Linked DNA regions of Homo sapiens: region 2 is linked to region 1. Evidence: fine-mapped expression QTL. Tissue or cell type: whole blood. Region 1 holds a variant in brackets; the other region holds the start of a gene. All regions are shown on one strand. Distances are between the middles of the regions. Region 1 has its middle 20 kb from the start of PAG1. Region 2 holds the start of PAG1 (phosphoprotein membrane anchor with glycosphingolipid microdomains 1).

Region 1 (5,382 bases):
ACACGAGAACTAGGAGGGAGAATCCTGGACCACACAGGTACCACACGAGAACTAGGAGGGAGAATCCTGGACCACACAGGTACCACACGAGAACTAGGAGGGAGAATCCTGGACCACACAGGTACCACACGAGAACTAGGAGGGAGAATCCTGGACCACACAGGTACCACACGAGAACTAGGAGGGAGAATCCTGGACCACACAGGTACCACACGAGAACTAGGAGGGAGAATCCTGGACCACACAGGTACCACACGAGAACTAGGAGGGAGAATCCTGGACCACACAGGTACCACACGAGAACTAGGAGGGAGAATCCTGGACCACACAGGTACACGTAAGAAAGAAAGGGAAGAATTACACAGGAAAACACGGATTTGATTCTCTCCTTTAGAGCTGGGCTCCCAAAGAGTTCCATAAAAGGGAAGACATCTTTGCTTCCCTGCCCCTTATCTCTCAAGCCTTCTGGACACTCTGTTTCAAGTTCCAGGAAAGGAAATCTTCGGCCTCTCCTTGAGAAGCAAAGAGAATTCAGTGACAATGTGTACAGAAATGTCTCTGACTTTCCTTAGATGATTCCATCTTTCTTCCTGCAACTCACCTCCTCACAAACAAACGTCCTCTCCTGCATTTGGGTTAATTTATTTTCAGTAAACACTCATCAAATGACCACCACTAAGCACAAGACCTAGCAGGGTCCTAGAAATATAGTTTCTGTCTTCTAGATCTTTGAAGGAAAGACATAAAATAAAGTAAAGTGAAATTCACACCAAGTAGACATCTGAACCACACGGTATTTGAACACAAAAGTGATGCATTCTGAATAGATGGCTCAAGAAAGACACCTGCCTGGATATGGAAAGGAGGGTAGTATTTTGAGAGGCTCAGGAGAGTATGGAGGTATAGGAACAGAGTGAGCAAAAGCTCAGAGGCTTCACACTGCATTCAAACTCCAGATTATGGTGCGAAGTTGTCTGTGGCTGGAAAATAGAAATTAGGGAGAAATACTCTAAAAATAGAGGTGTAAATGAAGCCAAGGTCAAGCTTTCAGAAACCTTCAATGCATGTTGCAGCATTATTTTCTGGCCAAAAAGGAGTTACTGAAGGCTTTTGGATAGAGAAATAACATCCAACATCCTTTTTCTGGAAGGAAAAAGGAAAGATAATGCTGAAAAAGGAAGACAATGCTGGTGTGGTGGCCTCCTTCAGGGGAAACTGCTTGGGGAGCAGACCTGATGAACAGTCTCTCCAGTAGTTACTCCTTTGTGACCACAATGTTATTTACTCCAAAGTCATCCTTCCTGGCCAGCATGAAGCTTCTTCAGTGGTAAAGCTCAGTGTCTTAGGGACTTCCCGTTGGCTTGGCTGAGACTTTCAAAACTGCTGTGATCTGAGACTCTCTGTACGTAATCCTTCCTACTCTTTCTCCTCTTGTAGGTGTCAGATCTGTAGATCAGTCTGGAGCCTCTCTCAGTGGACTGGACTCCTACTCCCTCCTTGCATTCTCTACAGACAATTCCCCAGGTAATCCTCTTGCATGCTCGGCATCGGCTTCCCACGGGGCCCAGACTGACACAGCTGGTAAAGCAGGAAGGATGACAGCCCTGATCTTATTTTGGAGTAATATGCAGGGCAGCCCAGAGTGCTCAGTACCAGCAAGACAGAAGGGGGAAGGACAAGGGAAGGGAAAGGGAAAGGAAAAATTTTAATTTAAAAATAAAAAAGCAGGTTTTGTTTGATCATCTCCAATATTCTTGTGAGAGAAGGGATTGTGCCAATTATTTTGAAAGCACTCAATCATCAATGGATTTTTCATATATGGTGGGGCAGGGTTATGGGCAAATATTGGTGTTTTCCTCATTGCTGAGTCTTCATCTATGGTATTTTTTTCCTTTTGTGTCCCTCTGGGTGTGTTCACATTAATTTATGTGGGATAAACCTAGTCGCTCGTGTCAAGTAATTTTTGTAATGGCAAATTTGAAACATTTATGCCCTTTTTCTTTGCTATCAATAACAACATTAAATAACATTTAATGTGATCAAAATTTTCTTACTAAAAATATTAAAACCATTTACTCATATGCTATGGGGCATAACCCTGAAGAGTAACTAAAGAATAAAGAATATAG[T/C]TTGATTCACAATTTTCTTACTAATATTTCCACACAAGAAATTATACCTTTACAATAGTGTTTAGTTTTTTAAAAGAGCAATAGTTTATTTATGAAAGTAATCCTTCCCTATTATATTGAAAGACTTTAAATGTTTAATAAGAGAATAGTAATGATAAAGCCAGTTCATAATATCCAAGCATTCTCTTGAGGTTTATGACAGGTCACTTTTAGTGTTTCACTTATGTAATATTTATGGTGAACTTCCTATTCTGATTTTCTATGTTCAAATGTATCTCTGTACTAAACATAAACATATCAATGTATCAGAATGAATAAATATTAATTTATAGATAAACTAACTATGGAGTATTTAGCAGTAGTTCTCAGCTACTCTGATTTGGTGTGGACAAAAATTACTTTATATTTAAGAAAAACTGAGCTAGATATGGTGGCTGTTGCCTGTATACCTAGGACTTTGAGAGGCTGAGGCAGGTACTTGAAGTCAGGTGTTCAAGACCAGCCTGGCCAACATGGTGAAACCCCATCTCTACTAAAAATACAAAAATTAGCCAGGCAAGGTGGCACACACCTGTAGTCCTAGCTACTCAGGAGGCTGAGGCATGAGAATTGCTTGAGCCTGGGAGGTGGAAGTTGGAGTGAGCCAAGATTGCGCCACTGCACTCCAGTCTGGGCAACAAAGTGAGACTCTTGTCTCAAAAAATAAAAAAAAAATTTAAAAAAACCCACAAAAACAAACAAAAAAAACTATGTGCAACCATAAACATTATGGCCCATGGGAGCTGTATGACCACCTAAATAAAGATGTTTCAAAATGCATGATATCTTGATAGTAATTATACACGTGTGTGTAAACATGGAAATTTTTTTTAACTAAAAAGGGTTTGTTTGTTCATCCCTTATGATTTGTTCTAAACCATGGTATGTAAACTGCTTTTATAACTTGTTTTCATCTCCACATCCTGTGAAAAGCTTTTGTTTATAAGATTCTTTTTGAAGTCAAGGAAAGCTTTACAGATGAAAGAGATAGCACAATCTTGTCCTTTCATATTATAAGGCAAGTAAGGAGAGTTGTTCATTTGATCAGTAGCTGTCACTCTGAAATAATCTTCCACCAAGTCCAGAATCTTGAAATTATCTGGGAAAGAATGGCCACTACTAACAACCCTTATAAACCATGTAAGAACTTGGGTGGTTGCCTTTGGTGTACTAGAAAGTTCCTGTTCCTCAGCATAGTTTACCAGGCCCTTCAAAATCTAACCCACAAAGAGATAGCTGTAGTAATTTCCTAATATCTATACCCCTCTTCTTCTTAGTTAGAAGTGCCTGGATTTTGTTTGGGAATCCGTGTGCCCACATCCCCGCAATGGTCATAGTCAGACTAAGCCAATTATGCCATTCTGTTCTTTACACTTTCGCCTTCTCTTCCAGCTAGTGGTAACCAGTAAACAGCAACAGAAATCTGTTGTTGGGGCTTCTGGGAAAGCTTTGCCTTCCTGATGCAGAGGCAGATGTCCCGCCACCGCCGTTTCTTCCTTCCTCTTGGCTCGAATGCAGATGTGACACCAGATATAGAGGCAGCTGTTTTGCCACCATGAGAGAAGGGCCAAGAGAACTGCAGAGACACTGGCCCTGACACATTGAGCCACTGAACCAATCCTCAGCCTCCCACATTTAGACCTTTGTCTCAGAAAAAAATAATCCCCTACTTGTTTAAGCCATCATTATCCACTTCTGTCACTTGCAGTAGAAAACATTCTTAACTGGTTGAGAAACAGGCTGAGATCACTTGCTTTCATTTCCTGTACCCCATTCCTTAAACTGCAAAAATCTGTTTATCATTCTACTAATCCACTGGGCTACTTAATGACTGACACAAAAACATTTTCCCTCCAAAATCCTTTTCATCAAAATAATTCAGCTTAAATAAGAAACATCCCCCAACTAATCCCCTCACCCTCACCCATGCTCCTTTAACCGCTGCACTAGCCTGCTGTTTACCAACTAGGGTGAGGGAGGCTTGAGGTACTATCCCCAGTACCCAGCAGAGTACCAGGAACACTAGGCAAATATGTTATCTTTGTTAAATCTTGCATATTCTAAACTATTTGAAGAGATAGCCTTGGTCTCATCTGAGACTTTTCACTGACAGGGTTTCCTTTGGTTCTAGGTGAAGCTGAATTCTCCCTGCACCTGGCATTCCCAGATAAGGTGAAACAAACATACTACAGAGGTCTTCTGAAGGACAATTTTGTAATAACAGTTAAAATGTTAAATATGTATAATGTTTGATCTAGCAGTTCCAATACTAGAAAGTGATACCAGAGACCTATCACAAAAGTGGCCAAAGATATCTATACCTAGCTACTGATTAGAACATTGTTTATAATAGCAAAAATTAAAAACAGGCCTTATGCCCACTAGTAAGAGACAAGTTAAATAAATTATGGTACATCCATTTAAAAATCAAATGCTATGCCACTGTTTAAAAGAACCAAAAAATCTATAAATGGTGACATACAAGGTCAGGGTACATCACTAAGGAAAATAATCCAGTTATAAAAGAGTGTGTTTTATCCCTTTTCTGTAAAAAAAAAAATTATATCTACTGAGCAAACTGAGATAAAGTCTACCTTAAAAGCAGTAGTTGGCCAGGCGCAGTGGCTCATGCCTGTAATCCCAGCACTTTGGGAGGCTGAGGTGGGCAGATCACGAAGTCAGGAGATCGAGACCATCCTGGTTAACATGGTGAAACCCCGTCTCTACTAAAAATACAAAAAATTAGCCAGGCATGGTGGTGGGTGCCTGTAGTCCCAGCTACTCAGGAGGCTGAGGCAGGAGAATGGCGTGAACCCGGGAGGCGGAGCTTGCAGTGAGCAGAGATCACGCCACTGCCCTCCAGCCTGGGCGACAGAGCGAGACTCCATCAAAAAAAAAAAAGGGGGGTGCAGTAGTTAATTCTGAGGTTGGGACTTTTATTCTCTTAAATATCAGTTTTATAGTATATGGATTTATGTAATCAATACATGTGCAATATTTATAATCAGAAACAAATTACTAAAGAAACAGATTTTCCCTGGTATTTATTTTCAGTAATGGGAGGAGGCCAGGAGCTCCTGCAGAGCTACAGCCCCTCTGCAGAAATAAAGAAATGCAGAGACAATTTGACATGCAGGATCAAAATAGGCTAGAAATGGGGCAGTAAGACTGGAGGTACAGGGGAGAAGAATACATGAATGGGTGAGCACCTAAC
Region 2 (5,382 bases), 20 kb after region 1:
TGCGATTTCTGCCAGACAATCAATAGCAGCTGATGTGAAATAAATTCTAAATACAGACACAGTCAATATCAAGACACAGTCAATATTAAAGCACAGTCAATATAGTATCAAGACAATATTATATATTTCATGTATTTAATGCCAATAACAATGGTTCAAAATTCAATAGCAGTAGGACACACCAATTAATAGTAACTTTTTATTTAATTAAATCTTGGATCTCTTGAAATCAATATACAAATGAATTATGTAAATATTTTGATTGAAATGTCGGGCACCTAAGAAAACAATGACAACTTTGGGTTCTTCTAAAGGTCCCAACATGACTATTCTGCTACCTTCATATTTAAAATATATATATATTTCTTATTAAAAACTGAAGTAAGTTTTACAACCTGTGATGTACCAGCTCCTTCAAAGAATTCTTTTTTCTTAGGAATTAATTTCATAATCACACCGAAGAATGGCTGTAATGGAAGAGTTAGATAAGAAGTAAAGATAAAGGCAGGTAGACCACAGTTGGCAGTGTAGCATTCCCAGTCAAACCTCTGGATTAGAAGACTGTATATAACTATCACATACTTGCTTCCAAAACATTACTCAGACCGAGAGTATAGCCCATAGCATCTACCACAAGCACAAGAATTGATCCTGACACTTTTGGTTCTCTATCTAGGAGTGGCTTTGAAATACATTTGAGTTCCAATTTACTGATGGCAAATCCTGATATGAAAAATTTGGAAATGAAAAACAATCCTCAGCATGTTACTTGGTGAAAAGAGAGCAGAGGAAAAGGACAGAGGCTAGAGATTGGCTCCTGCCTGCATTCGTGAATTTGTCTAAATCACTTAGCTTCTGAGCCTGGGTAAAATGAGGATGGTAATTACACTTGTCACCAGATAACGTGAATATTGCCCTTCAAACTCCTCAATGAAGCCTGCACTGTGGAACTGCAATGTCCTAGGACCGGGTTGCTCTTAGAACATTTTGTTCTAAGTGTATCCTAACAAGTGTAGCAAAACTGGAAGACACAAAATGTATTTCCTCCCCACAAGAATGAAAGCCTTCCTAACTCCAAATTTAGGCACAGCCTGTAAAAGATGTGACTAGTAAACACAGAAACCATTTGCTTTATAAGGTCTAAATTGTCCTCTTCTCCAGAGTTGTAGAAGCCAAGTCCAACACGGAGATCCCTACTTTTATTCAAGTTCCACCATTAGTCAACTCATGTCCAGGATGTCTTCTTTAATATATAAAATGGGGATACTTTTTTATATTATTATTCAACTTAAGAGACCACTGTGAAATTTCAGTGAGGTAACGTATGTGAAATGTTATACTCCATAAGTTCTTAAACACCTGAGTTTCATACCATGCTCTGAAGCAAGAGGCCAAGTCTGGTTCCTGGGTCCGCTTCCCCAATGGGCTTTTCCAAGCTGTAGGCTGAGTCTAAACTGTTTCCTCCCACATACCCTTCCCTCTGCGACACACTAACAACATCCCTTACTCCATCACTGTCTTCCTTACCCTCTCCTGATGAGCCTTCTTCCCCAGCCACCTTTAAGCTCCCATTAATGATATGTGTAACGAGTGTTCAATAGAGTGTGTGTGTGTATATTTAATGCCATTTATATGTTTTTTCTTGCTAAGTAATGCATCATAATTTTAGAAAATTGGGACTAGTCAGATAAAGCACCCGTTGGTTTAGAATCCCTGACTCAAAGTCAGATGTCCTGAGTTCTAGACTTGGTTTGTCTCCTTGTAAGTGCAAAAGTTTATTCCCAATTCCAGGTTGCTAGTGTAAACTTGAAGTTTGGCCCAAACAAAACCCCTATCAGATTTATTTAGAGTGTTGATGCCAAATGGAATTCTAGAAGCCCACCTTTGCCAGGGGCTGAGCCAGAACCACTATCACTGGGGGTACGGCCTGGGCATTTGTTCTGCGTTTTTTATAAGCCCCTCGGGTGACTGTCAGACAGGCCAACTGTTTCAGAAGCTCTGCTCCAGGCTCTAGATCACACGTTAAGTAGCAAGGATGGGGGTCTGGACCTCCAGTATTGGCATCCTCCGAGAGCTTGTTAGAAAGGATGTCTCCCTCATTATCCCAGGCCTACTGAATCTGAATCTTGCATCTCATCACAATCCGCAGGAGATTCTGTCACACACTGAGGGTTTGAGAAGCACTGCTGTACCTTGGTATCTTTAGATACCTACTGATACCTGGGTGGGCCCCACCCAGACATTGTCCTGTACTTGTTCTGGGATGCGTCCGGGGCAAAGGGTTCTTACAAGCTCCCCAAGTTATTTTAATGCACAGCCACAATAGAAGATCACTGTCCCCCAAATGGCAACCCTTTACGGTTAAGCTGTAACCTGAATTAAATTGGCTTTTGTGGGCTCCCCAGGGACCTTAAGGACCGCTTAAACGGTGCTGTTTAAAGGACAATGGGCTCCTGGGACAAGTTCAACCACAGAGCTTTGGGTTCATAAAATCAGGGCAGGGAAGACTTCCTGCATCCTCCCGCGAGCAAGCCAGGCCCCGCGCCGGTCCTCACCCGTGTGCACCCCCAGCCCGGCCCCGCCCGGCTCGCCCCCTCCCGCCCCGCGGCCCGCCCCTCCTCCCCCGTGACGTGCCGCTGCGGCCAGGATCATGCGCACTCGCGCCCCGCTCCCCGCGCGGCTGCTCCGCCTCGGCGCCTGTCATTCTCCGCGGCGCGGCGGCGAGTGCTGGCTGCGGTACCCTCCCGCTCGCTTGTCCGTCTGCGCGCCCGCGATGTGACCAGCCGACTGGGGGCGGGCTGGCGGCTCTGCCTGCGGCAGCGCATCGGTTTTTCTCCTGGCAGGTCCCTAATTGAGCCGTGATTCCCTTGGAGCCAGAGACACCCACCAGGGGCTCGGAGCGCCGCGCTCCGGGGCTGGAGGCAGCTGCAGCGCTCGGGTCCGCGCGGCCGGGTGCAGTAGCCTCAGTCCCAGCCGCCGCCTCGCTGAGTCGTGTGCCCTGGCGAATGCCCGGCGCCCGGCACAGCTGAGCCAAGGCGACTGGTGCAGAGCGGCGGCGCCTGGTCCTGCACTTGCCGCTGCTGCCGGGCTGTGCCGGGGCGGCGGCGCTGCGCGCCGGAGTTTGCAGAGGCTGCCTCCGAGCGCCGTCCGCCAGGAAGACTCCCTGCCTCCTGAGTCCCAGTAAGTTGACTGTAGTTTCTGAAGTTGGAGGGAGCCGTGGGAAGGAGAGGTTCGTTTTTATCTTCTTGTGGGAAGCCGAGGGTGGCACCTCTTGTTAACAGAGTTCCAGCTCGAGGAGGGAGTGCGGGGTGCCAAGAAGGGGACAAGGCAGCTGGAAGGTCTGGAGTCCAGGGCTGGCTGACCTCAGCATCTCACGAATGTGCCAGTTGGAAATATGCTGGGAGAGGACAGGTACTCCTAGGGCATTTCGACTGCTGCGTGCTAATTATTCATTCCAAGCTCCTTGACTCTGTGTTTACGTTGGGGTGAAGGGGCTGGGCAGGGTCTTGTCACCTCCATCCTAATTCCTCTGGGGAGTGTGGCCAGCACTGCGATGGATCTTTGGGCGAGCCATTTCTTTCAGGCCTGCAGGCTTCCCGCGCATCCCGCTTTACTCTTCCCCTAGGCAGAAGTTGCCAACCTTTTCATAATTGGAGCCTAGTCCTTTAGGGAAAAAACAACTTATATGTCGACCCGGTGTTTTATGCCCTAAGGCAAATAAAACGAGCTCTGGGCGTGTGAATTCATACACTTTAAGAATGTAGGCAAGTCTCAAGAAATAGGATTCAGATAATGACACTTGGATTTCACCCTGATTGTCCTGCACCTCTTATGTAAGCCTCCCGGCTGGATAACTTTATCTCTGCAGTGGCTGCAGCTGTGGCCCTCCATTCCATTTGTTTAAAGTCCAATTGAACAGTATTTACTGAAAATGCTGACATGATATAGCGGCCTGAAGTCTGAAACAGAGTGCACTCTTCAAATTGGAGTGTCTTCTCCTAATAGGGAGCATGGGAGGAACAACCCACTATATTTTTCAAGGCAGCTCCAGGAATTAGACCCATAAATCATGTTTTAAAATAGCATGCATTGTGCAGAGAGCATGCAGAGGACCGCTTTTTGAACACATCCCCTTTGTTTTAGAAAAAGTGGAAATTGTTCATGCCAGACAATTGTTGAGTCTAAAAGTTAAGTGTACTGATGGGCCTAATTATCTTAATAAACAAAGAGCATGATTTATAGGTAGCTGCAGTGCCCTACTTTGAAGGATAGAAATCTTTAACCTTTCTTTCTCAGCTGTTCCCGAGAGATTCCTTTTAAGCAGAGCTATGGATTATCATCATTGATGTTTAATACCTGAGTTGGTTAAACTTGTAAAAGGAATAGTACTTTGAAGTACCATGCAGTACTGCTGTGTGACTGTTACACAGCGAATATTATAAATAAGAGGAATATTTGGAGTATTGGGTATAGATGTCATTAGTTTAACAAAATAGGTCATATTAAGACTTTCCTGCTAAATATATATACACATACATAAATGTTTAATTTGGACTTGAAATTATTGTTTAAACCAAAGCTCAGGGGTATGTTTTAATGTAAGATTTATTTACATAATCTTTGAAGAGAGAAGTGCATTTATTTATGGTATTTCAGCATGCAGAACAAGATGAACTAGTTATAGGCACCTTATTTAAAGTGTAAAGGGTTTTTTTTTAGGAATACTAAGAAAATACACAAAATGTTATTTCAGAAGTTGAAAAGTTAGTCACATCAACACATTGCGGTTTGTGAGAGCATCCAGTGCTTATCTCTAGAAGAGATTACATCCAAGCATGGAATCTCAAACAGATTGACCCATTAAGCCCTATTGCAGCCTGGTTAGGAGGACAGGCTATGGAGCCAGGCTGCCAGCTCTGGTACCATCTGTTTGAATCTAGGCAAGTAACCCAAAGTCTGTGCCTCAGTGTCTTCATCTGTACAATGGGGATGACAGTAGTAGTACCTACCCCACTGAACAGTAGTGAGAATTAAATGAGTTCATAGACATAGAGCTGTTGGGCCAGTATCTGGCATATTAAGCTTGTTCTGGGAAAAATTTTCATTGTTATGAAAGGAAATGCATCTTTGGACTCTATGGACATTGAATTGCTGCTATGGACATTGAATTGCTGCTGATGAATATTAACAGAAGCAGTTCATGTGTATAATAGGAGAGAAGGTATAAACATTTATTGTGCACTGTCTAGCGATACAGACACCAACTGGTATTTAACACTGTCTTGCTCAATTCCCCACCACAGTCCTTTGAGGTAAGTGGCTTCATCTCTACTTTAGAGATGAGAAAATGGGAGCTCAGTGAGATCAAATAGTAGAAATTGG

The links.
Region 2: it holds the start of PAG1, and the variant in region 1 is fine-mapped to the expression of PAG1 in whole blood (INTERVAL, PIP above 0.99).

Annotation. Positions count from the first base shown.
Region 1 is chr8:81,128,923-81,134,304 of GRCh38, reverse strand. No RefSeq gene overlaps it. Among named protein-coding and RNA genes, the nearest start is that of PAG1, 20 kb to the right of the region's middle. RefSeq lists an enhancer at 3,809-3,888. The variant T/C (reference allele first, on the strand shown) is at 2,130.
Region 2 is chr8:81,109,389-81,114,770 of GRCh38, reverse strand. It overlaps PAG1 (phosphoprotein membrane anchor with glycosphingolipid microdomains 1), which reads left to right and starts at 2,703. Exons shown (of 9, transcript NM_018440.4): 1 at 2,703-3,180. RefSeq lists a silencer at 2,568-2,697 and an enhancer at 3,188-3,257.